Regions from separate parts of the Homo sapiens genome. Here all the other regions are linked to region 2. The links come from fine-mapping of genetic effects on gene expression. A gene starts in region 2. Each other region holds a variant in brackets. All regions are shown on one strand. Distances are between the middles of the regions.

The links. PIP is the estimated chance that this variant, and not a neighbour inherited with it, causes the effect. A credible set is the group of variants that fine-mapping cannot tell apart.
Region 1: its variant is the best candidate, but not a certain one, in a credible set for the expression of JAM3 in subcutaneous fat (GTEx, PIP 0.59).
Region 3: its variant is the best candidate, but not a certain one, in a credible set for the expression of JAM3 in Th17 cells (Schmiedel 2018, PIP 0.81).

The regions. Positions count from the first base shown.
Region 1 is chr11:134,102,166-134,110,197 of GRCh38, reverse strand. All of the region lies in intron 1 of JAM3 (junctional adhesion molecule 3), which reads right to left. Among named protein-coding and RNA genes, the nearest start is that of JAM3, 37 kb to the right of the region's middle. The variant A/G (reference allele first, on the strand shown) is at 4,046.
Region 2 is chr11:134,064,979-134,073,010 of GRCh38, reverse strand. JAM3 (junctional adhesion molecule 3) reads right to left here and starts at 3,939. Exons shown (of 9, transcript NM_032801.5): 1 at 3,852-3,939. The coding sequence starts at 3,927. RefSeq lists a silencer at 3,945-4,134.
Region 3 is chr11:134,158,708-134,166,739 of GRCh38, reverse strand. NCAPD3 (non-SMC condensin II complex subunit D3) reads left to right here. Exons shown (of 35, transcript NM_015261.3): 28 at 4,849-4,959; 29 at 6,666-6,848. Among named protein-coding and RNA genes, the nearest start is that of SNORD153, 11 kb to the right of the region's middle. The variant G/TTG (reference allele first, on the strand shown) is at 2,869.

The DNA.
Region 1 (8,032 bases), 37 kb before region 2:
ATCTTGTTTTTGATACCCTCACCAACACTAGGTATAGTCAATCTTTTTAGTTTTTGTCATTCTGATAGATGCACAGTGGTATCTTACTGTGGTTTTAATTTGCATTAAGGTGCAAATTAAATGATGCAAATTAGGTTAAGCATCTTGTATTTATTTTCCATTCATAAGATCTCTGCTACAGTTACTCAACTCTGCCATTTTAGAGTGAAAGCAATGTGAAGGGAAAATAAAAACTCAGACCCCACTTCACTCTGCCAAAAGGAAAAAACTAAGCTGAAAGCTGTGTCCTACAAGAAGCTGCCTTTCCATTTGTTTCTAAGCAGACAGCTATAGAGAAAAGGTTCAGTATCTCCCCAGGTAGCTACTCCATGTTCACCTTATCTTATGTAAAGTATTTATTTACTGGGCACAATATGAATACATAATTGACTATTTCCCTACCTGCTCCTTTTCTCTTGCAACATGTGGATTACCACATTCTCCCTCTTTCCCCTCCAGCCCACTTTTTCCCTTTAAATATTGCAGCCCTCAAAATCATTTTTGAAAAAAGGCACAGACCACTGACCATTTATGTGATTCCATGTTTTATTCTTCCGGGCATGTCCTTAACCTTGGCAAAATAAAGTTCTCAATTGATTGAGACCTGTCTCAGATCTTTTGGGTTTACAGCAGCCATAGTTGATAAGTAAATGGATGGATGTGGCTGTGTTCCAATAAAATTTTATTTGCAAAAGCAAATAACAAAAAACCAGGCAACAGTTATATTTGGCCTTTGGATTGTAGTTTGCTGATCCCTGACATAAATGTTAATGTCCTCTGCAAATAAAGATATGAAGACAGCTTTACTTCTTCCTAATTTTTTTTAAGTTCTTTTTTTCATCCCTGGTTGCACTGCTAGAACCTCCAATACAGTGTTGAATAGAAGTGGTGAGAGCAGGCCGGGCACGGTGGCTCACGCCTGTAATCCCAGCACTTTGGGAGGTTGAGGTGGGTGGATCACATGAGGCCAGGAGTTTGAGACCAGCCTGGCCAACGTGGTAAAACTCCTTCTCTTCTAAAAATACAAAAATTAGCCGGGGGTGGTGTGGTGGCTCGTGCCTGTAGTCCCAGCTACACGGGAGGCTAAGGCACGAGAATTGCTTGAACCTGGGAGGTGGAGGTTGCAGTGAGCTGAGATTGTGCCACTGTACTCCAGCCCGGGAGATAGAATGAGACTCTGTATTAAAGTTAAAAGAGCTGGTGAGAGCAGGTATTTTTGTCTGGTTTCTACCAATAATATAATATTACCTATAACTTTTTCATGGATATTGTTTATCAGATTGGGAAACTCCCTCTATTCCTAATTTTTGGCTTAATTGAACCAGCTTTTGGTTTATTGATTTACCTCTGTTGTTTTGCTGTTGTCTGTCTCAGGAAGTTCCTTCCTATTCCAAAAGTTTTTTTTATCATAAATGGATGTTGAATTTTGTCAAGTGCTTTTTCTGCATCTGTTGAGAATGTAATATGGTGATATTGCGTTATTATAATGAATTACATTAACTGATTTTCATATGTTAAACCAACCTTGCATTCCTGGGATAAACCTCGGTTGGTTTTTGTTTTTGTTTTCTTCCTATACACACAAACAGCCAGAACTTGGTCTTTTTTATGATTGACTTGCTAAGATTTTGTTTGAAATTTTTGCATCTATGTTCACGAGGGAAATTGGCCTGTAGATTTCTTGTAATGCCTCTGGTTTTGATATCAGGGTAATTCTGGCCTCATAGAATACTTTGGGAAATAATTCTTTCTTTTCACTTTGTTGGAAGAGTTTCGTTAGAATTGGTGTCTTTTTTTTCTTAAATGTTTGGTAGAATTCACCAGTGATCTGGGCCTGGAGTTTTCTTTGTGGGCAGTTTTTTTTTTAACTATAAATTATTTTTAAAAAGTAGATGTTAGGCTATTCAGGCCACTTATTTCTTCTTGAGTGAGCTTTGGTAGTTGTGTCTTTCAAGAAATTTATTTGATCCAAGTTGTGAAATGTTTAAGCATAAAGTTGTTCATAATATTTTCTTATCATTCTTTTAATGTGTTTATAGTCACCTATCTTATTCCTGGCATTGTTAACTTGTTTCTTTTCTCTATTGTTCCCAATTAGTCTAGTAGAGGTTTCTTAATTTTACTGATATTTTCAAAGAAACAGCTTTTGGACTTACTGGTTTTTTTCTGTTGTTTTTGTTTTCTGAAGTCTCATGATTTCTGCTTTTACCTTTATTATCTTCTTTATTCTGCTTACTTTGAATATGTGTTCTTTTTCTGATTTTTTTTCCTATTTTTCTGTTTATTTATTTATTTTAGAGACAAGGTCTTTCTCTGTTGCTTAGCCAGAGTGCCGTGGCGTAATATTAGCTCACTGTAGCCTCAATTTCCTGGGACCAAGCAATTCTCCTGCCCCGATGTCCCAAGTAGCTGGGACTACAGGCATCTACCACCATGCCTGGCTCATTTTTAAATTTTTTGTAGAGATGGGGACTTGCTATGTTGCCCAGGCTCTTTTTCTAATTTCATAAAGTAGATGAACTCACTGATTTCAGACCTTTCTTCTTTTCGAATATAGGTCTTTCATGCTGTAGATTTCACCCTAGTTACTGCTTTAGTGGCCTAGTCTTAATTCTGATGTCACATTTTTATTTTCATTCACTTCAAAACACTTTTTTTTGACTATTTATATATATTTTTTATACTTTATGTTCTAGGGTACATCTGTACAACGTGCAGGTTTGTTACACATGTATACATGTGCCATGTTGGTGTGCTGCACCCATTAACTCGTCATTTACATTAGGTATATCTCCTAATGCTATCCCTCCCCCCTCTCCCAACCCCACAACAGGTCCTGGTGTGTGATGTTCCCCTTCCTGTGTCCAAGTGTTCTCATTGTTCAATTCCCACCTATGAGTGACAACATGCGGTGTTTGGTTTTTTGTCCTTGCGATAGTTTGCTGAGAATGATGGTTTCCAGCTTCATCCATATCCCGACAAAGGACATGAACTCATCATTTTTTATGGCTGCATAGTATTCCATGGTGTATATGTGCCACATTTTCTTAATCCAGTCTATCATTGATGGACATTTGGGTTGGTTCCAGGTCTTTGCTATTGTGAATAGTGCCACAATACACATACGTGTGCATGTGTCTTTATAGCAGTATGATTTATAATCCTTTGGGTATATACCCAGTAATGGAATGGCTGGGTCAAAAGGTATTTCTAGTTCTAGATCCCTGAGGAATCGCCACACTGTCTTCCACAACGGTTGAACTAGTTTACAGTCCCACCAACAGTGTAAAAGTGTTCCTGTTTCTCCACATCCTCTCCAGCACCTGTTGTTTCCTGACTTTTTAATGATCGCAATTCTAACTGGTGTGAGATGGTATCTCATTGTGGTTTTGATGTGCATTTATCTGATGGCCAGTGATGATGAGCATTTCTTCATGTGTCTTTTGGCTGCATAAATGTTTTCTTTTGAGAAGTGTCTGTTCATATTCTTTGCCCATTTGTTGATGAGGTTTTTTTCTTGTAAATTTGAGTTCTTTGTAGATTCTAGATATTAGCCCTTTGTCAGATGAGTTGATTGCAAAAATTTTCTCCCATTCTGTAGGTTGCCTGTTCACTCTGATGGTAGTTTCTTTTGCTGTGCAGAAGCTCTTTAATTAGATCCCATCTGTCAAATTTGGCTTTTGTTGCCATTGCTTTTGGTGTTTTAGACATGAAGTCCTTGCCCATGCCTATGTCCTGAATGGTATTGCCTAGGTTTTCTTCTAGGGTTTTTATGGTTTTAGGTCTAACATTTAAGTCTTTAATCCATCTTGAATTAATTTTTGTATAAGGTGTAAGGAAGGGATCCAGTTTCAGCTTTCTACATATGGCTAGCCAGTTTTCCCAGCACCATTTATTAAATAGGGAATCCTTTCCCCATTTCTTGTTTTTGTCAGGTTTGTCAAAGATCAGATGGTTGTAGATGTGTGGTATTATTTCTGAGGGCTCTGTTCTGTTCCATTGATCT[A/G]TATCTGTTTTGGTACCAGTACCATGCTGTTTTGGTTACTGTAGCCTTGTAGTATAGTTTGAAGTCAGGTAGCATGATGCCTCCAGCTTTGTTCTTTTGGCTTATTATTGACTTGGCAATGTGGGCTCTTTTTTGGTTCCATAGGAACTTTAAAGTAGTTTTTTCCAATTCTGTGAAGAAAGTCATTGGTAGCTTGATGGGGATGGCATTGAATCTATAAATTACCTTCGGCGGTATGGCCATTTTCACGATATTGATTCTTCCTACCCATGAGCATGGAATGTTCTTCCATTTGTTTGTGTCCTCTTTTATTTCGTTGAGCAGTGGTTTCTAGTTCTCCTTGAAGAGGTCCTTCACATCCCTTGTAAGTTGGATTCCTAGGTATTTTATTCTCTTTGAAGCAATTGCGAATGGGAGTTCACTCATGATTTGGCTGTTTGTCTATTATTGGTATATAAGAATGCTTGTGATGTCTGGACATTGATTTTGTATCCTGAGATTTTGCTGAAGTTGCTTATTAGCTTAAGGAGATTTTGGGCTGAGATGATGGGGTTTTCTAAATATACAATCATGTCATCTACAAACAGGGACAATTTGACTTCCTCTTTTCCTAATTGAATACCCTTTATTTCTTTCTCCTGCCTGATTGCCCTGGCCAGAACTTCCAACACTATGTTGAATAGGAGTGGTGAGAGAGGGCATCCATCTTGTGCCAGTTTTCAAAGGGAATGCTTCCAGATTTTGCCCATTCGGTATGATATTGGCTGTGGGTTTGTCATAAATAACTCTTATTATTTTGAGATACGTCCCATCAATACCTAATTTATTGAGAGTTTTTAGCATGAAGGGCTGTTGAATTTTGTCAAAGGCCTTTTCTGCATCTATTGAGATAATCATGTGGTTTTTGTCTTTGGTTCTGTTTATATGCCGGATGATGTTTATTGATTTGCGTATGTTGAACCAGCCTTACATCCCAGGGATGAAGCCCACTTGATTATGGTGGATAAGCTTTTTGATGTGCTGCTGGATTTGGTTTGCCAGTATTTTATTGAGGATTTTTGCATCGATGTTGATCAGGGATATTGGTCTAAAATTCTCTTTTTTTGTGTCTCTGCCAGGCTTTGGTATCACGATGATCCTGGCCTCATAAAATGAGTTAGGGAGGATTCCCTCTTTTTCTATTGATTGGAATAGTTTCAGAAGGAATGGTACCAGCTCCTGCTTGTACCTCTGGTAGAATTCGGCTGTGAATCCATCTGGCCCTGGGCTTTTTTTTGGTTGGTAGGCTATTAATTATTGCCTCAATTTCAGAGCCTGTTATTGGTCTATTCAGGGATTCAACTTCTTCCTAGTTTAGTCTTGGGAGGGTGTATGTGTCCAGGAATTTATCCATTTCTTCTAGATTTTCTAGTTTATTTGCATAGAGGTGTTTATAGTATTCTCTGATGGTAGTTTGTATTTCTGTAGGATCGGTGGCGATATCTCCTTTATCATTTTTTATTGCATCTATTTGATTCTTCTCTCTTTTCTTATTAGTCTTGCTAGCGGTCTATCAATTTTGTTGATCTTTTCAAAAACCCAGCTCCTGGATTCATTGATTTTTTTGAAGGGTTTTTTGTATCTCTATTTCCTTCCATTCTGCTCTGATCTTAGTTATTTCTTGCCTTCTGCTAGCTTTTGAATTTGTTTTCTCTTGCTTCTCTAGTTCTTTTAATTGTGATGTTAGGGCGTCAATTTTAGATCTTTCCTGCTTTCTCTTGTGGGCATTTAGTGCTATAAATTTCCCTCTACACACTACTTTAAATGTGTCCCAGAGATTCTGGTATGTTGTGTCTTTGTTCTCATTGGTTTCAAATAACATCTTTATTTCTGCCTTCATTTTGTTATGTACCCAGTAGTCATTCAGGAGCAGGTTGTTCAGTTTCCATGTAGTCAAGTGGTTTTGAGTGAGTTTCTTAATCCTGAGTTCTAGTTTGATTGCACTGTGGTCTGAGACAAGTTTGTTATAATTTCTGTTATTTTACATTTGCTGAGGAGTGCTTTACTTCCAAGTATGTGGTCAATTTTGGAATAAGTGCGATGTGATGCTGAGAAGAATGTATATTCTGTTGATTTGGGGTGGAGAGTTCTGTAGATGTCTATTATGTCCGCTTGGTGCAGAGCTGAGTTCAATTCCTGGATATCCTTGTTAACTTTGTCTCGTTGATCTGTCTAATGTTGACAGTGGGGTGTTAAAGTCTCCCATTATTATTGTGTGGGAGTCTAAGTCTCTTTGTAGGTCCCTAAGGACTTGCTTTATGAATCTGGGTGCTCCTGTATTGAGTGCATATATATTTAGGATAGTTAGCTATTCTTGTTGAATTGATCCCTTTACCATTATGTAATGGCCTTGTCTCTTTTCATCTTTGTTGGTTTAAAGTCTGTTTTATCAGAGACTAGGATTGCAACCCCTGCCTTTTTTTTGTTTTCCACTTGCTTGGTAGATCTTTCTCCATCCCTTTATTTTAAGCCTATGTGTGTCTCCGCACATGATATGGGTCTCCTGAATACAGCACACTGATGGGTCTTGACTCTTTATCCAATTTGCCAGACTGTGTCTTTTAATTGGAGCATTTAGCCCATTTACATTTAAGGTTAATATTGTTATGTGTGAATTTGATCCTGTCATTATGATGTTAGCTGGTTATTTTACTCATTAGTTGATGCAGTTTCTTCCTAGCATCGATGGTCTTTACAATTTGGCATGTTTTTGCAGTGGCTGGTACTGGTTGTTCCTTTCCATGTTTAGTGCTTCCTTCAGGAGCTCTTGTAGGGCAGGCCTGGTGGTGACAAAATCTCTCAGCATTTGCTTGTCTCTAAAGGATTTTATTTCTCCTTCACTTATGAAGCTTAGTTTGGCTGGATATGAAATTCTGGGTTGAAAATTCTTTTCTTTAAGAATGTTGAATATTGGCCCCCACTCTCTTCTGGTTTGCGGAGTTTCTGCCGAGAAATCCACTGTTAGTCTGATGGGCTTCACTTTGTGGATAACCTGACCTTTCTCTCTGGCTGCCCTTAACATTTTTTCCTTCATTTCAACTTTGGTGAATCTGGCAATTATGTGTCTTGGAGTTGCTCTTCTCGAGGAGTATCTTTGTGGCATTGTCTGTATTTCCTGAATTTGAATGTTGGCCTGCCTTGCTAGGTTGGGGAAGTTCTCCTGGATAATATCCTGCAGAGTGTTTTCCAACTTGGTTCCATTCTCCCCATCACTTTCAGGTACACCAATCAGACATAGATTTGGTCTTTTCACATAGTCCCATATTTCTTGGAGGTTGTGTTTGTTTCTTTTTACTTTTTTCTCTAAACTTCTCTTCTCGCTTCATTTCATTCATTTGATCTTCAATCACTGATACCCTTTCTTCCAGTTGATTGAATCAGCTACTAAAGCTTGTGCATTCGTCACGTAGTTCTCATGCCATGGTTTTCAGCTCCATCAGGTCATTTAAGGACTTCTCTACACTGGTTACTCTAGTTAGCCATTTGTCTAATCTTTTTTCAAGGTTTTTAGCTTCTTTGCGATGGGTTCGAACTTCCTCCTTTAGCTCGGAGAAGTCTGATTCTCTGAAGCCTTCTTCTCTCAACTCATCAAAGTCATTCTGTGTCCAGCTTTGTTCCGTTGCTGGTGAGGAGCTGCGGTCCTTTGGAGGGGGAGAAGCGCTCTGATTTTTAGAATTTTCAGCTTTTCTGCTCTGTTTTTTCCCCATCTTTGTGGTTTTATCTACCTTTGGTCCTCGATGATGGTGACATACAGATGGGGTTTTGGTGTGGATGTCCTTTCTGTTTGTTAGTTTTCCTTCTAACAGTCAGGACCCTCAGCTGCAAGTCTGTTGGAGTTTGCTGGAGGTCCACTCCAGACCCTGTTTGCCTGGGTTATCAGCAGCGGAGGCTGCAGGACAGCGAATACTGCTGAACTGTCTGGGTTTTATATGAACTCCATCCCTTACC
Region 2 (8,032 bases):
CTAGAATTCTGAGAGTACATGCAAAGATCTGAAATTTGCATTCAACTTTGACAGCATAACATTCACACCACCTGACTATAAACATCTTTTTTTTTCCCCCAAGACGGAGTTTCACTCTTGTACCCCAGGCAAGAGTGCAGTGGCGCAATCTCAGCTCACTGCAACCTCCACCTCCCGGGTTCAAGCGATTCTCCTGCCTCAGCCTCCAGAGTAGCTGGGACTACAGGCAAGCACCAGCACGCCCGGCTAATTTTTGTATTTTTAGTAGAGACAGGGCTTCATCATGTTGGCCAAGATGTTCTTGATCTCCTGATCTTGTGATCCGCCCACCTCGGCTTCCCAAAGTGCTGGCGTGAGCCACTGTACCCGGCCAACTATAAACATATCTTAAAAGAGAATCCAGCTGGGCGTGGTGGCTCACGCCTGTAATCTCAGCACTTTGGTAGGCCAAGGCGGGCAGGTCACTTGAGGTCAGGAGTTCAAGACCAGCCTGGCCAACATGGTGAAACCCCATGTCTACTAAAAACAATAAAAAAATTAGTCAGGCAAGGTGGCACGCATCTGTAATCTCAGCTACTCGGGAGGCTGAGGCAGGAGAATGGCTTTAACCTGGGAGGCGGAGTTTTGCAGTGAGTTTTGCAGTGAGCTGAGCTCATGCCACTGCATCAGAAACTCAGTCTCAAAAAAAAAAAAAAATCCAACTTCACCACTAGGGTATTCTTCAGCAGACTCCATACATCCTAACTTCATTCACACATATTTTCCTTTCTTTTACTACATTTGTGCTTTTAAAAAATTCAAAGAATTTATGGAGAAGGAATTTGCTAATACCACATCTCTAACAGCTGCTAGTCGAATGTACTAAATCCATAGCTGCGTCTGTTACATTATGTGGCCATCTTATACTTGAGGAAAGTCTGGTTGCTTTCAAAAGAACTGATTTAAACCCACCCCATGGAGTTTAAGAACAAGTTCCATGGAGCTTAGGGGTTGTGTGGATAATTCTGCCTGAATGTAATACTGCAATTACTTATGATTAAGTATCTCTAGTACTTATCCATTCAGTCTCCTTAGCCTGAAGCACTGAAGAACAAATGCCCATCAACAAGTCATGTGGGAATGAGCAGCTGATATAAAGTACTGCATGCTTTCAAGACAGGTGTTCTTTGTTTTTTTTAAAACATACACACAAGTCTGACAATGATTATATCTGCCAGATAATTAAGAATTAGAACATAAAAGAATATGCCATTCTAAAAAACGTTACTGGAGTCCAAACAGATGCAAATAAAAGAATTAAACATTTTTTCAAAAATTTCCCAGAAATTTTGATTTTCAGATTTTGATATGCTTCAGCACACAAGTTGTCTTATCTGAAGAATGAAAACTGTTGCTGTTTTAATTCTAAATAAGGCACTTCTCTCTAGAATATCAAAGATTTGGAAACCTAACACTAATGAGTACACAATCATTCAAAAAAGCCATGTGGCATAACATTTGTAAAGCTGAACTGCACCTGTCATGAGTCAACAAAAGAATATTTTATATACAAACCACATAGTGTTGAAAACTTGATAATCTGTTTAAACTGATCCATTAAAAGAACTCCACCGTCAAATGGAATAATACAAATAACTAAAAATTGGATTAACACAAATAATGAAGGATTTCCCATTTAAAACGCACAGGATAACACTCCCGACAAGGGTCTGAATCTCTCCATACTTCTGTTCCCTCATCCACAAAAGGGCACAACAATAGTAACGACTTCTTAGAGTTATCAAGATTAAATAAATTAGCAAACATTAAATTCTTGTAACAGAGCCTGGCAAAGGGTAACCACAAAAGAAATGTTTGCTGTTATATCAAGAACCAAAATTTTTAAGATGAAAATAAATAGTAATAGCAATTGAGAATAATCATAAAAAATAAAAAGGACACAGTAGTCATGACTTCTGGAAGAACAGTTTTAGGGTAGCTTAAAGCATAAACCAAATAATGGAAAAAGAGCCCCTACTAAAAAAAAGATAGCTACACGCCTTCAAAGTGGATTCATACATCCTACTACCTCGATTATTTGTCATTAGAACTAGTTTGCAAAATTTGATTCTTCCTCCTACGCTCTGCATGTGAATCCCAGCCCCTACCAGCAAAAAAGCCACAAAACTAGTCCCTTAGGGGAAGGAAATCAGAGGTTAAGGGTAAGTGAAGCTCTTTGCATTTTCTAGTTTTATTAACAAACTACCAAGTTGAAATTCATTCCTGAGCTAAACTGCCAAATGCTTCTGCAACAAAAACTGCAAACTTTCACGTGAACAGATCTTTTCAACAATAGAGAGTTGTTCCAGGCTGTGAATAGGACAGTGTCAGTGTGACCAACACAGCGGGTGCTGGACATTCCTGACACCCTTGTCCCCTGGCTAGCCTTTGATCACTTATCTCCCAACAGCATTTGGTTTTGGGAATCACTTTCAGGCAAAGTATACAGACTTTGCCTTAGCGTACATAATCTATACGCTAAAACTCATCTTTTGTCACAGCCCATCACGAGCATCCCATTAGCATAAAGCACCAAACACAGGAATGCTTTGTTTTCCAAAATCTGTCCACCTTCACTCCTAAACAGTCCCTCCGTGTTTTAATTTGTATATTCTGGAAAACATCATGGGATGACAGTGGCAATTCAAACAATAAAATAATCTAAGAACCGAAAAAGGTCCTGGTCTGGTTACCTGCGGATGGCTGCCAGGGGAAGAGTGTGGTGTCCTGCTTTAGGTAAATATGAAGTTGAGGCTTCACTACTTAGAATGCAGCCTTGGAAAGCAGACTAGACTTGACTCTGAAAATGGATTAATGAAACCTATCTCACAGAGCTGCTGAAAGGAGTAAACGAGATAATGGCTCCAAAGTGCCTAGTAGACAGTACAAGCTCACTAAAGGAAAGCTATTTTAGTCCTCTGTACAACTGTCCAGGAAAATGTGGATCTAATGAGAATTCCAAACAGAGGGAAAGAAAATGCACAAAACTATCAAGTTTATTAGTGTGTCTTGATCAAATGCCCCGAATGCTATTTCCGGATAAGAGTCTGCGTGGTCTCCTCGGCCAGGCCAGAGACAAAAAAGGTACTGGATTGATATCCATTTTATTTCTGTAAAAGAAAAGCAGTTCCTTTGTGTCGAGTCAAATGAACTGCAGATCCCCAGAGGGCTGTGACCAAGCAGCCCGCCAGGCCTCGGAGCTCTGCCTCGCCGGTCCTCAGCTACGTCCCCCGCTCACCGTCCCTTCTGGAGAGCACAGCACTGCTGCGCAGGGTCTTCCAGCAAGTTCCAGCGCCCACGCCGCAGCTGCCGCGCTCCCTCCAGAGGGCCGTGCCCACCGCCCGGGAGGGGTCCACCCCGGGGACGAGCCCACCGCCCAGCACAGGACCCCGCCTGGGAGGAGCCCACCCGGGGGATGAGCCCACCGCCCAGCACAGGACCCCGCCTGGGAGGAGCCCACCCGGGGGATGAGCCCACCGCCCAGCACAGGACCCCGCCCGAGAAGAGCCCGCCCCCGGGGTCCGACGGCTGTCCGGGACCGACTCACTGCCTGGGACGGGCCCCCCATCCCAAATTAGCTCCCCGCCCCGGTCCAACTGCCGGGCGTCCCAGGGCCCCCGCCCTAGCCAGGCCCGAGTCCCAGCCCTGGCTGCGGGGACGCGGGCGCGCGCCGCCCCTCCGGCCCGGGACCCCGGGAGCCCTCGGAGCCAGGACCGCTATCCTCGCCCGGACCGGCTCCAGCAGCTTCGGCCCGCTCTGCTTCCGTCGCCCCCAGACCCTAGTCTCCCAACAGCGGAAACGCGCAAACTCACCCCTGAAAAGCAGCAGCAGGAAGAAGTCAGGCAGCCGAGCGCAGAGCCGGAGTCGCGGTGGCCGCCTCAGCGCCATGTCGAGGGTTGCTGAGGGGCCAGCGGCAGCGCGGCGCGGCTTGTAGTCCCCGCGCGCATGCGCCCAGCCTGCCAGGACCCTGCGACCCGCCCCAGTTACCATGGCGACCGCCGGGCCCAGCCGAGCCGGCACCATGGTGACAGAGGAAGCTGAGGTCTAGCTGCTTACGGATGCAGCGATGCTCTGGACCGGCACATGGGTTCTCTTTCAATGAACTTGGCGGGAGGAGAGTAAAGAAGTATGTACAAGAGTGAAGCAGGGTATATTTCCATAGCTATAGAATAAATCCATCACAACAGGTCGGAGAAGGAACACTCCTTTAAAATTTGGGAAATAAAGTATTTCTTATTTTACAAATAAGGATGCAGCCCAGTTATCTTGGAAGCATTATCGCCTTCACATCTTTTGGGCCCCCAATTCCAAATTGATGGAAGGAAAAGAGCTGAAATCTGCTTAAAACATAAGCAATACATACATTATACAGCATATAAAAGTGATGTCTTGCTAAAATAATTTGTTTATGTGGTAGATCAAAAGCATGATGGCATACCCAATAGTTTATTCTGCAGAAAAGCAGACTAATTATTTGCTCTGATTTCTGAATACTGGGAGATAGTAAAACCAGGGAAGAACAGGTAAGATGAGGACAAACAGGAAAAATGAAGAGAAGGATAAATTAAAGCAGAAATTAGATCTAAAAAAGCAAGAGTATTTAAAGTCTCACTTAATACTATGGAAAATACTTGAAAAGCTTGTATTTTAGCAAGTATAGAAAGTACACCTCCAATGTTCCCAGAAACAGCAGTCTAGCAACAGAATTCTGAATATAATTGTTAGTAAAATAAGCCAGTTTCCAACTAATATTTTTAATGTTTAACTTTTTCATATACTCATGCTACTTTTTTAGTATTTTTAGTTTTCATGCAAAATAGAAGTATATTTACATATTATGTATACCAAATTTATATATGTAAAAGCCGGGAAACGTGAAATAGATTGAGATTGTTGCCAAGAATATGCTTCAGTTTCCATCACTGTATAATCTTCTTTGTAAATCTTTATAACTGCTCAGATCTTTATGTTAATTGATTACCTTCTCAAAAATCTTATAAAGACAGAATAAAAATTAAAAAATAACTCAATTACCTACTATGATTCTGTCTTTCCTTTCATAAATCTTCTTTATGTTCCAGGTCACCATGCACTAAATCACAAGTAAAAGTGTGTAAAAGTTGTTTTATAATGGTGGCCTCTTTCCCTTTATCAAGCACAAAATCGAGAAATTAAAAAGAAGAAAATTCGTCTTATGCCCACTGACATTTTTTTCTGCCCTCTGTTTTCCCTATTATTCCCTTTAGCTCCTGGTCACATGGCCAGGCATATTTACCTAACTGAAGGAACTGTTTGGGTTACTTGGAAATGTGAGATGGTGTCTGACTGTGGACAGAGCACGGTTTTCAAAAACCAGTGCCTCTTTTCTCCTGCGGAATTTTCAGTGTTTGCGTTGTAAAATGGTCTATCTGTTAAATGGTCTTCCTGCTAGGGAATCTTTTGAAACTCAGACCGAGATTACAAAAAAGGGCTGCATGAATATTCTATAAGGGGCAGAGGTTCCTAGGAGAGTGGATGGCAGGTGCTTCATTGTAAGACATTGATTTTCCTCTGCAGATGGAGTCGGCATGTCATTACCAACAGCTGAGACAGTTCCTGGAATGGAAGTCTAACTAGGGATGCAGCAGAGTGGGGTAGGACACACGTGGCTGTGAAGTGGTCTGCTCTTCCTTAGGGTTTCATTGTTCCCTGGAGAGCTCTGACCCTGTGCAGAAGGGAATCAGAGCTCAATAAGGCCAGCAGCAAAGTCCTGGAAGCATTCCGTGAGCAGGGCTGAGGAGGCTCTGCCTCCATCACAGCATTACTCATCTGAATATGCTTATTTCTAAGGTGTGGCTTACTAGGGAGACATGCACTTCTTAAAAGAGCTCGGGGAACTGAATGTAAACCAACAATAAAATGCTAAGCCCTGGCCAGGCGTGGTGGCTCACGCCTATAATCTCAGCACTTTGGCAGACCAAGGAGGGAAGACCATGAGGTCAGGAGTTTGAGACCAGCCTGACCAACATGGTGAAACCCTGTCTCTACTAAAAATACAAAAATTTGCCAGGCATGGTGGCAGGCGCCTGTAATCCCAGCTACTCGGGAGGCTGAGGCAGGAGAATCACTTGAACCCGGGAGGTGGAAGTTGCAGTGAGCCAAGATTGCGCCACTGCACTTCAGCCTGGGTGACAGAGTGAGACTCTGTCTCAAAAAAAAAAAAAAGCTAAGCCCCTCAACAATCTGAAATGACCCCTCCTCTCAGCCAAAGGCACTGCAAAGTTAACCTGAAAAACTAGTTTAAGCCATGATCGGGGAGTTGGATATGCCTTATTATACCCTCCACCCTTTTGGAATTCAGGCCAACTGACCAGCATCAACATTAAAACAGATCTTAAGACTGATAGGGCCAGGTGCGGTGGTTCAGGCCTGTAATCCAGGCCCTTTAGGAGGCCAAGGTGGGCGAATCACCTGAGTTCAGGAGTTTGAGACCAGCCTGGCCAACATGGTGAAACCCTGTCTCTACTAAAAATACAAAAAATTAACCAGGCATCATGATGCATGCCTGTAGTTCCAACTACTTGGGAGACTGAGGCAGGAGAATCGCTGGAACCCAGAAGGCGGAGGTTGCAGTGAGCTGAGATCGTGCCACTGCACTCCACCTGGGCAACACAATGAGACTCCGTCTAAAAACAAACAAACAAAAAAGACTGATACAACAGACTCTCTCTCTCTCTCTGAAGCCTGTTACCTGGAGGCTTCATCTGCATGATAAAAACTTGGTCTCCACAACCGTTATTCTAACACAGACGTTCCTTTCTTGCTTGCTTTTTTTTTGTTTTGTTTTTTGTTTTTGTTTGTTTGTTTGTTTGACAGGGTCTTACCCTGTCACTCAGGCTGGAGTGCAGTGGCACACAATCGTGGCTCATGCTTGAGCCTCAACCTCCAGGCTCAAGCAATCCTCCCACCTCAGCCTCCTGAGCAGCTGGGACCACAGGTGTGCGCCACCATAGCTGGCTAATTTTTCTACTTTTTTTTTTGGTAGAGATGGGATCTCACCATGTTGCCCAAGCTGATCTTGAACTTCTGGGCTCAAGTAATTTGCCCGCCTCAACTTCCCAATGTGCTGGGATTACAGAAGCGAGCCACTGCCCCAGAGCCAGACCAGACCTTCCTTTCTATCAGAATAATCTTTGAATCTGCCTATGACCTGAAATCCCAACCCCACCCACTTATAGTTGTCCCACCTTTCTAGACAGAACCAATGTACACCTTACATGTATTGACCGATGCCTCATGTCTCAAAAAAAAGAAAAAAAGGAATGTGATCCATGACTTCTGTTCCTTTACTATGCTATTCTAGCCCTGAACAATCATCTGAAGTCAACCCGCATCGCATGAGAGAAGTGGGATCCTTTGACTAATGGAAGTCTCTGACCTCAGAGTCCTTCTTTAAAGCATTCTTCTTCAGGGCTTTTCAAAGACCTGGGTATGTTTCTGTTTCTCCATCTCTCCTCTCTTTAAGTCCCATCTTCCTCACAATATTTTCAACTATGTTATCCCACATTTTATCTCAACTCTTATCCCCTGCTTTTTCCTTCAAAGTATTTCTTTAATTTTATTTAAATAGGAAAACCTTCTCCCACCTCCCTCTAAGGAAACAGTAGCAGACAAAACTTCCATCTTCTCCAATAACATATGCCGCTTGTGGTCTGCAAAAGAAGAAAAGTTCTTCCGCAGTTCGATCTATTTGCACATTTCTCTCCTTTGCTGAAAAAGTTTATATACCAATGGCAGATTTTGGTCAAGTGGCTTCCTAGAGAGAGGCTTTCATAAGCAGCTATTTAATAAACCTTTTGCATTTCACCAAAAGAAGGCTAGGTGTTCGTGTGTGTGTGTGTGTGTGTGTGTGTGTGTGTGTCTTTCAGTAGAAATATCATACATGCCAGGAGTTAAAGAGAGTCACACCCTTATGCTAGGGCAGGAGTTAAAGTATCCTGGTGGTATCTCTATC
Region 3 (8,032 bases), 94 kb before region 2:
TCATCTCACAAGTGAGTGTGCTGCTCTCCCTAAGCTCATCTCACTCAGTGTGCCCCTCCCCCAAGCTCATCTCACAAGTGAGTGTGCTGCTCCCCCAAGCTCATCTCACTAGTGAGTGTGCCTCTCCAAGCTCATCTCACTAGTGAGTGTGCAGCTCCCCTAAGCTCATCTCACGAGTGTGCGCCTCCCCCAAGCTCATCTCACAAGTGAGTGTGCTGCTCTCCCTAAGCTCATCTCACTGTGCCCCTCCCCCAAGCTCATCTCACAAGTGAGTGTGCTGCTCCCCCAAGCTCATCTCACTAGTGAGTGTGCCCCTCCCCCAAGCTCATCTCACTAGTGAGTGTGCCCCTCCCCCAAGCTCATCTCACAAGTGAGTGTGCTGCTCCCCCAAGCTCATCTCACTAGTGAGTGTGCCTCTCCAAGCTCATCTCACTAGTGAGTGTGCAGCTCCCCTAAGCTCATCTCACGAGTGTGCGCCTCCCCCAAGCTCATCTCACAAGTGAGTGTGCTGCTCTCCCTAAGCTCATCTCACTGTGCCCCTCCCCCAAGCTCATCTCACAAGTGAGTGTGCTGCTCCCCCAAGCTCATCTCACTAGTGAGTGTGCCCCTCCCCCAAGCTCATCTCACTAGTGAGTGTGCCCCTCCCCCAAGCTCATCTCACAAGTGAGTGTGCTGCTCCCCCAAGCTCATCTCACTAGTGAGTGTGCGCCTCCCCCAAGCTCATCTCACAAGTGAGTGTGCTGCTCTCCCTAAGCTCATCTCACTGAGTGTGCCCCTCCCCCAAGCTCATCTCACAAGTGAGTGTGCTGCTCCCCCAAGCTCATCTCACTAGTGAGTGTGCCCCTCCCCCAAGCTCATCTCACTAGTGAGTGTGCAGCTCCCCTAAGCTCATCTCACGAGTGTGCGCCTCCCCCAAGCTCATCTCACAAGTGAGTGTGCATCTCCCCTAAGCTCCTCTCACGAGTGTGTACCTCCCCCAAGCTCATCTCACAAGTGAGTGTGCAGCTCCCCTAAGCTCATCTCACGAGTGTGCGCCTCCCCCAAGCTCATCTCACAAATGAGTATGCTGCTCCCCTGAGCTCATCTCACGAGTGTGGGCCTCCCCTAAGCTCATCTCACGAGTGTGCGCCTCCCCCAAGCTCATCTCACTAGTGTGCCCCTCCCCCAAGCTCATCTCACAAGTGAGTGTGCTGCTCCCCTAAGCTCATCTCACAAGTGAGTGTGCTGCTCCCGTAAGCTCATCTCACAAGTGTGCCACTCCCCCAAGCTCATCTCATGAGTGTGCCACTCCCCTAAGCTCATCTCACGAGTGTGCTTCTTCCCCTAAGCTCATCTCAGAAGTGTGCCCCTTCCCCGAAGCTTATCTCACGAGTGCGCCCTTCCCAAGCTCATGAGTGTGCCCCTCCACTTAAGCTCATGTCACAAGTGAGTGTGCAGCTTCCCTAAGTTCATCTCACAAGCGAGTGTGCAGCTCCCCCTCAGCTTATCTCACAAGTGAGCGTGCTGCTCCCCTAAGCTCATCTCACAAGTGTGCCGCTCCCCCAAGCTCATCTCACAAGTGTGCAGCTCCTCCTCAGCTCATCTCACAAGTGAGTGTGCTGCTCCCCTAAGCTCATCTCACAAGTGAGTGTGCAGCTCCCGCAAGCTCATTTCACAAGTGAGTGTGCCGCTCCCCCTCAGCTAATCTAAGTGTGTGCAGCTCCTCTAAGCTCATCTCACAAGTGGGTGTGCAGCTTCCCTAAGTTTGTGTCACAAGTGAGCATGCCACTCCCCTAAGCTTATGTCACAAGTGAGTGTGCCCCTCCCCCTAAGCTCATCTCACAAGTGAGTGTGCAGCTCCCCCTAAGCTCATGTCACAAGTGAGTATGTAGCTCCCTCAAGCTCATGTCACACGTGAGTGTTCAGCTCCCCTAAGGTCATTTCATGAGTGTGAAGTTCCCCTAAGTTCATTTCACGAGTGTGCAGCTCCCCCAAGCTCATGTCACAAGTGAGTGTGAAGCTCCCTAAACTCATGTCGCAAGTGAGTGTACAGCTCCCCTAAGCTTATTTTACAAGTGAGTGTGCAGCTCCCCCAAGCTCATGTCACAAGTGATTATGCGGCTCCCTCAAGCTCATGTCACAAGTGAGTGTGCAGCTCCCCTAAGCTCATGTCACAAGTGAGTGTGCAGCTCCCCTAAGCTCATTTCACAAGTGAGTGTCCCACTCTTCTCACCATCTACTGGCTTCCGTGTTCTCCCTGGAATCCTGGTGCCATGCTCTGGTGCTGACTTCTTTCTTACTGATGGCTTTAACTCTTGCCAGATGGTGACAATTCTCAAACCTGTTTCCCACTCCAGCATTTCTCATGAGCCTGAGCTCAGGTCCCCCTGCTGCCAGGACGTGCTCCGGGTGTCTCTGACTTACTCTGTCAAAACTCCCTCAGTCATCTCTTCTTTCTGCTCTTCATCTCCTCTTTCTCCCACAGTTTATGGTGCTCTTGCAGACTGGAGTCTGGTGTGTCAGGCTGAGGCTTTTGTTGGCAGGAAGTGTAGAATTTGGATCTGAATGACTGGGGCAGAGCTTGGCTGCCACAGGCCTCTGCAGGCCTGTGTTTTCCTCCTAGCCTGGATTGCCAATGTGTATTTCCCACCTGGCCTCTGGAGGCTTTTGACTCCAAGGATATAGACTCTGATCATATCTTGCCACAAGATCCTGCCTGTTTTCTCTTACCAATCTATCTCTCTAGTTCTGACCTTATTTAAGCTTATCCCATTTCCATGGTTTCCTTACCACCCTTTCTGTTTCTGGTTTCTTTCTGTCACAGGCCATGTACCACCTTGCTGCCAGAGCAGTCTTTCTTTCTTTTTCTTTTTTTTTTTTTTTTTTTTT[G/TTG]AGACAGAATCTCACTGCGTCGCCCAGGCTGGAGTGCAGTGGCGCGATCTCAGCTCACTGCAAGCTCCGCCTCCCAGGTTCACGCCATTCTCCTGCCTCAGCCTCCCGAGTAGCTGGGACTACAGGCCCCTGCCACTGTGCCTGGCTAACTTTTTTTTTTTTTTTTTTTTTGAGACACAGTATCACACTGTTGCCCAGGCTGGAGTGCAGTGGTACGATCTCTGCTCAGTGCAAGCTCTGCCCCCCTGGGTTCATGCCATTCTCCTGCCTCAGCCTCCCTAGTAGCTGGGACTACAGGCACCAGCCACCACGGCCGGCTAGTTTTTTTGTATTTTTAGTAGAGATGGGGTTTCACAGTGTTTGCCAGGATGGTCTCAATCTCCTGATCTCGTGATCTGCCCGCCTCGGCCTTCCAAAGTGCTGGGATTACAGGCATGAGCCACCACACCCAGCCCAGCAGTCTTTCTTAAGTACAAATTTGATCATTTTATTATATCTGAAACAGACTAAAGGCAGGTTGACTGTGAGGGGTGGCAGGAAGCTTTTGGGTGATAGATGGTGAGTGGTCTGTAGTGCTGGTTATTCCATATAGACTTTTGTCAAAGCTCATGGAAGTGTTTGTTTAAAATGGGTAAATTTATTACATATGTTATACTTCACTAGTGAAATCTTTAAAAACTATGCTGGTGGCTTCCTGTCATCTTCTGAATAAACCCTGATTCTTCTTTTTCAAGGTAAACAAGAACTTCTGGTGTGCCTTCCACCTTTCCCATACCTCCCTCCATCCTCACCTCTAACCTCTCCACTTCAAATTGCCATCTGCACCTCAGTTGCGAGCTGCCCCCTACTCGTGTGCTCTTGCCTCTGGGTCTAAAGTCTGCAGCGCCCTCACCCACCCATCCTCCCTTCTCCACACATCCTCAGGATCATCCATCAGATGGCCATGCACTCCTTAGGCATCCCATCTCCATACCTAAATTCCCTAACACCCTGCCACTTAACACCTCTTCCCTTGAGACACACACTTTCTAGAAGTGGCTGGAGGGCAGGGATGCTTAGCTTCATTTTGCATCCTCAGAGGGTTAGCTCTTTGCCTGGACAGAGAAGGTGCTTGATAATACTTGTCAAGTGAATGCATGGAAGCCACTTCTTAAGACTATTCCTGAACATAACATCTGCTCACATCTGGGTTTATTAAATTGCTTATTTCTCTACTTGTTGTCCTTCTGTTTCAGGAACTCTGATAAGACTTTTTAGAAATGAGTAGTTTACAAGGAAGAAACATACACTAGTGACTTTAAATGAGAAGGAAAAGAGTAGTTTCAGCTTCAGGAGGATAAATCTTGCATATGTGGGCTACTATAGTGCTTTTTTTTTAATTTAAAGAGATTCACTGGAGAATATTTGTGGTTAGTGATCATTCAAGGTAAAGTGTGAAGACTTGGTCAAATCAGGTACTATATATATAAATTCATAGTATTTTGTAGATGTGTACACAGAGAGAGAGACAGAGCTGGCTGTCTTCATGCTTAGCCATTTTTAGACCATTGTCCCTTCACCAGCAGGAATACGAAGTGTCCCTCTGGGTAGCCAGAACGAGCTGACTTCTGTTCCAAGGGGAGGGTGTTGAATTGAGGACTGAAGGTGGAGCAAGAGCCAAGGTCCCTCAGGGTCTTCTGTGGAGATTTGGGGCTTTTGTCAAAAGCTACTCAACATGTTTCTAATTCTTTTTCCCCATTTAGAATATATGAGTAGTATTTGTCCCCACCCTATCTTACAAAGCCTTCAGAGTGTTTTGAGGTAATGCTTACAAAGTCTCCCAGAGAAAAGCAGAGGTCCTCTACATCCAGTATCATAATGAAAAGCAAAAATAAACTTACATAGTGTGGTAGGGTGGCTCTACTCAAAGAACTAGATCAAGGAGAGGCCTGTCTTTCAGAAGTTCATACATCTAAAACATGTCTTTGTTTGTGTTACCAGGTTCAGAAGAGGAATTTCATAGAAAATATTATTCCAATTATCATCTCCCTGAAGACTGTGCTGGAGAAAAATAAGATCCCAGCTTTGCGGGAACTCATGCACTATCTCAGGGTAAGGGTGGAGCCTGTGCTTTTGTGGTTGTTGTCCTACCAGTTCATTACTTAGGATCTTCTGCCAGTTATGACAGTGCAGGCAATCCGTGAATGATTAGAACCCCAAATTCTGCAAACCCAACATTACCTTGGTAACTGCTGTGGAGCTAGGGGTTGGCTGTGGGTTCCACCAAAGCCGCTCTTTCCCTTGGATGTGCAGCCAGGGCCGTGAAGAGCCGGCCCACTGTGCCAAGCACGTCTTCCCTTAATGGAGTTCAAGTCCATCTGGAAAACTTTCCCAGCTGGGGTCAAGAACACAGTCATCTTCGTTCATGCTGCTTGGGGGTAAGGTGAAAGTGAGTCTTCGGGTTTGATTTCAGGGTGCTTACCTTTTGCACTGACTCAGATTCACAAGGTCAGGAAATAACTGCCCTGCAGGAGCTGCCTTCGGAGCTGCCATCACCAGGCTGAATTCTTTGTCAAGCAAGGGGACCATGAGGAGCTCAGTCGGAGCAAACCCAGGATGTGTTGACTTGCAGGGCGGACCTAAGTGGGGCCTCAGACCTTTCTTGCAAAATCTTTTACTAAGAAATAAATGCAACATAGTTTTTCTTTAATTCAGCAGTTATAGCTCTGTTCACATTATGTGTTTTTCTTCCTCAAAAAAATGCTACAATTTTTTTTCCAATAAAGGCCTCAACAAAAATTACATTGAATATAAATTTTCAAATAGCTTTTTATACTAGGAAGCCAAGGTAGGAAAGATAGTCTCATTGTATGATAAAAATAAAAACTTCCAAATATTCTTGTATTTATTGCCTGACTTTAGACCCTAGAAAGGAAAAAAAAAAACAAAAACAGAGCTTTGATCCTACATAGACTACTTAAACACTTAAGAAAAATAAGCCTTCCTCCTGCTTGTGAGCACACACACAGGATGGCCACACGTTGCTTGTTGTCAGTAGCTTGAGGGAGTCTCTTCATTGGCCTGTGGAACCCACTCCTAGTGGCAGCTGGAAAAGTGCATGGATTCCTTCTCTTTGTTGAGACTTCCCTCCCAGTTGGAACTGCAGTGTCTTTTTCTCCCTATTACTGTTAGGTGGAATGATTCTTTCTCTTAGCAAAGTGGTCTTGCCCCTGGCACCCCTCTTTAAGACCTAAGAATGTTTTTCCCTAGGTATGAGAAAAGGTTTTCTGTAAAATCTTCAGAAGAAGACACAAAGATGGGATTTGAGCCTTAGTTGGAATCCCCTGAGAGCCAATGGGGAGGCTAATGTAGACAGATGAGCAGCTTTTAGATCCATGCATCCTGGGACTTGCTCCAGAGGCTGTGTCTGAGCATGTCTTTCTCCCATTGGGAACCTGGGAGAGATTGCCCATTAACTGCCACATAGCCAGGATGCTTCCTAAGAGAGAGAACTGTTAGTTACTCACATATTTTTCTGCTTGTGTGGCCAGTGGTGTTTGCTCCAAATATACCATTGTACCTGTTAGTTACTGGAATGGAAATCATCTGCTTTCAGTAATGTCAGTCCTATTGTTCCTATGATTTATCAAGCAACATGACTTGGGGGGCTTTTTTCTTTCTTAACTTTTATTTTGCGTTCAGGGGTACACGTGCAGGATGTGCAGGTTTGTTACACAGGCGAAGGTGTGTCGTGGGGGTTTAGGGCTTTACGTTTTTATTCAAGAAAACATGAAAGGATGCTCCTGGCTCTGTTTCAGGAGGTGATGCAGGATTACCGAGATGAGCTCAAGGACTTCTTTGCAGTTGACAAACAGCTGGCATCAGAGCTTGAGTATGACATGAAGAAGTACCAGGAACAGCTGGTCCAGGAGCAGGAGCTAGCAAAACATGCAGATGTGGCCGGGACGGCTGGAGGTGCTGAGGTGGCACCTGTGGCACAGGTAGGTGTGGGGCCCACTGCACTGTGACCAGACAGTCCAGTCTGCTGTCTGCTACCAGTCTGTCGTTTGTCTGGCACCTCTCAAGATCTCCGTCATCAGAGGTTAGTCAGCCCGAAGGCCTCGAGAGTGCTGCTTGTTGGCCACTCCCTCGTGCCTTTCTGTCTGTGATGGATTTACTGTGCTCCAGACCTCCCTTCCATGAGGACGTGGTGCAGGAAGCGAGCTGGCAGCAGCAGTAGCTGGTGACTATAGATCCTAGGTCTGCCAGGGTGTGTCAGTGTGTCCGCATCTTCCCCCAGCACTCCCTCTTTAGAGCAGACCGGCACACGGCCATTTCTAGGAGTAGCTGTTGCTCACCGTCCTGAGGAATGCAGGCAGATCTCTTGTAGGAAAGACCAATGAGCACAAAGTAGCATACTCCTTTTTCTCTTCTGTCATGCCACAGCATCTACAAGTGGCAGCTTTCTCATAGTATTCTGTTTCTGAAAAGGAAATTCAACTTACCCAGGGTTGATATGGCTTCAAAGTACATTACTTATGGACTTGCTCATAGTACGTGAAGATTCTATTCCAATAAAGTGTTAAAATGGAGAAAGGGAATGGCTTGTACACTGTTGGTAGGGATGGAAAGTAGAACAGCCACTATGGAGAACAGTATAGAGGTTCCAAAAAACTAAAAGTAGAGGTACCATATGAGGCAGCAGCCTCGCTGCTGACTGTATAGTCAAAAGAAAGGAAATCAGGATGTCGAAGACATACCTGCACTCCCATGTTTATTGCAGCACTGTTCACAATAGCAAAATTTGGAAACAAATGTCCATCAGTGGATGAATGGTAAAGAAAATGGGGTGCATATACAGTGGAGTACTTTTCATCTATAAAAAGTGAAATCTTGTCATCTGTTGCAACATGGATGAACTTGGAAGACATTATATTAAGTGAAATAAGCCAAACACAGAAAGACAAAGATTGTATGTTCTCATTCATATATGTGAGCCAAAAAGGTTGATCTCACGGAGTTAGAGAGTGGATTTTTGGTGATTACCAGAGGCTGGGAAGGGGTGGGAGAAGGGGGATGAAGAGAAGTTGGTTAATGGGTACCAAAATACAGTTAGATAGAAGAAATAAGTTCTAGTATTCAGTACAGTGGAGATATTACAGTTTAACAATTTACTGTATATTTC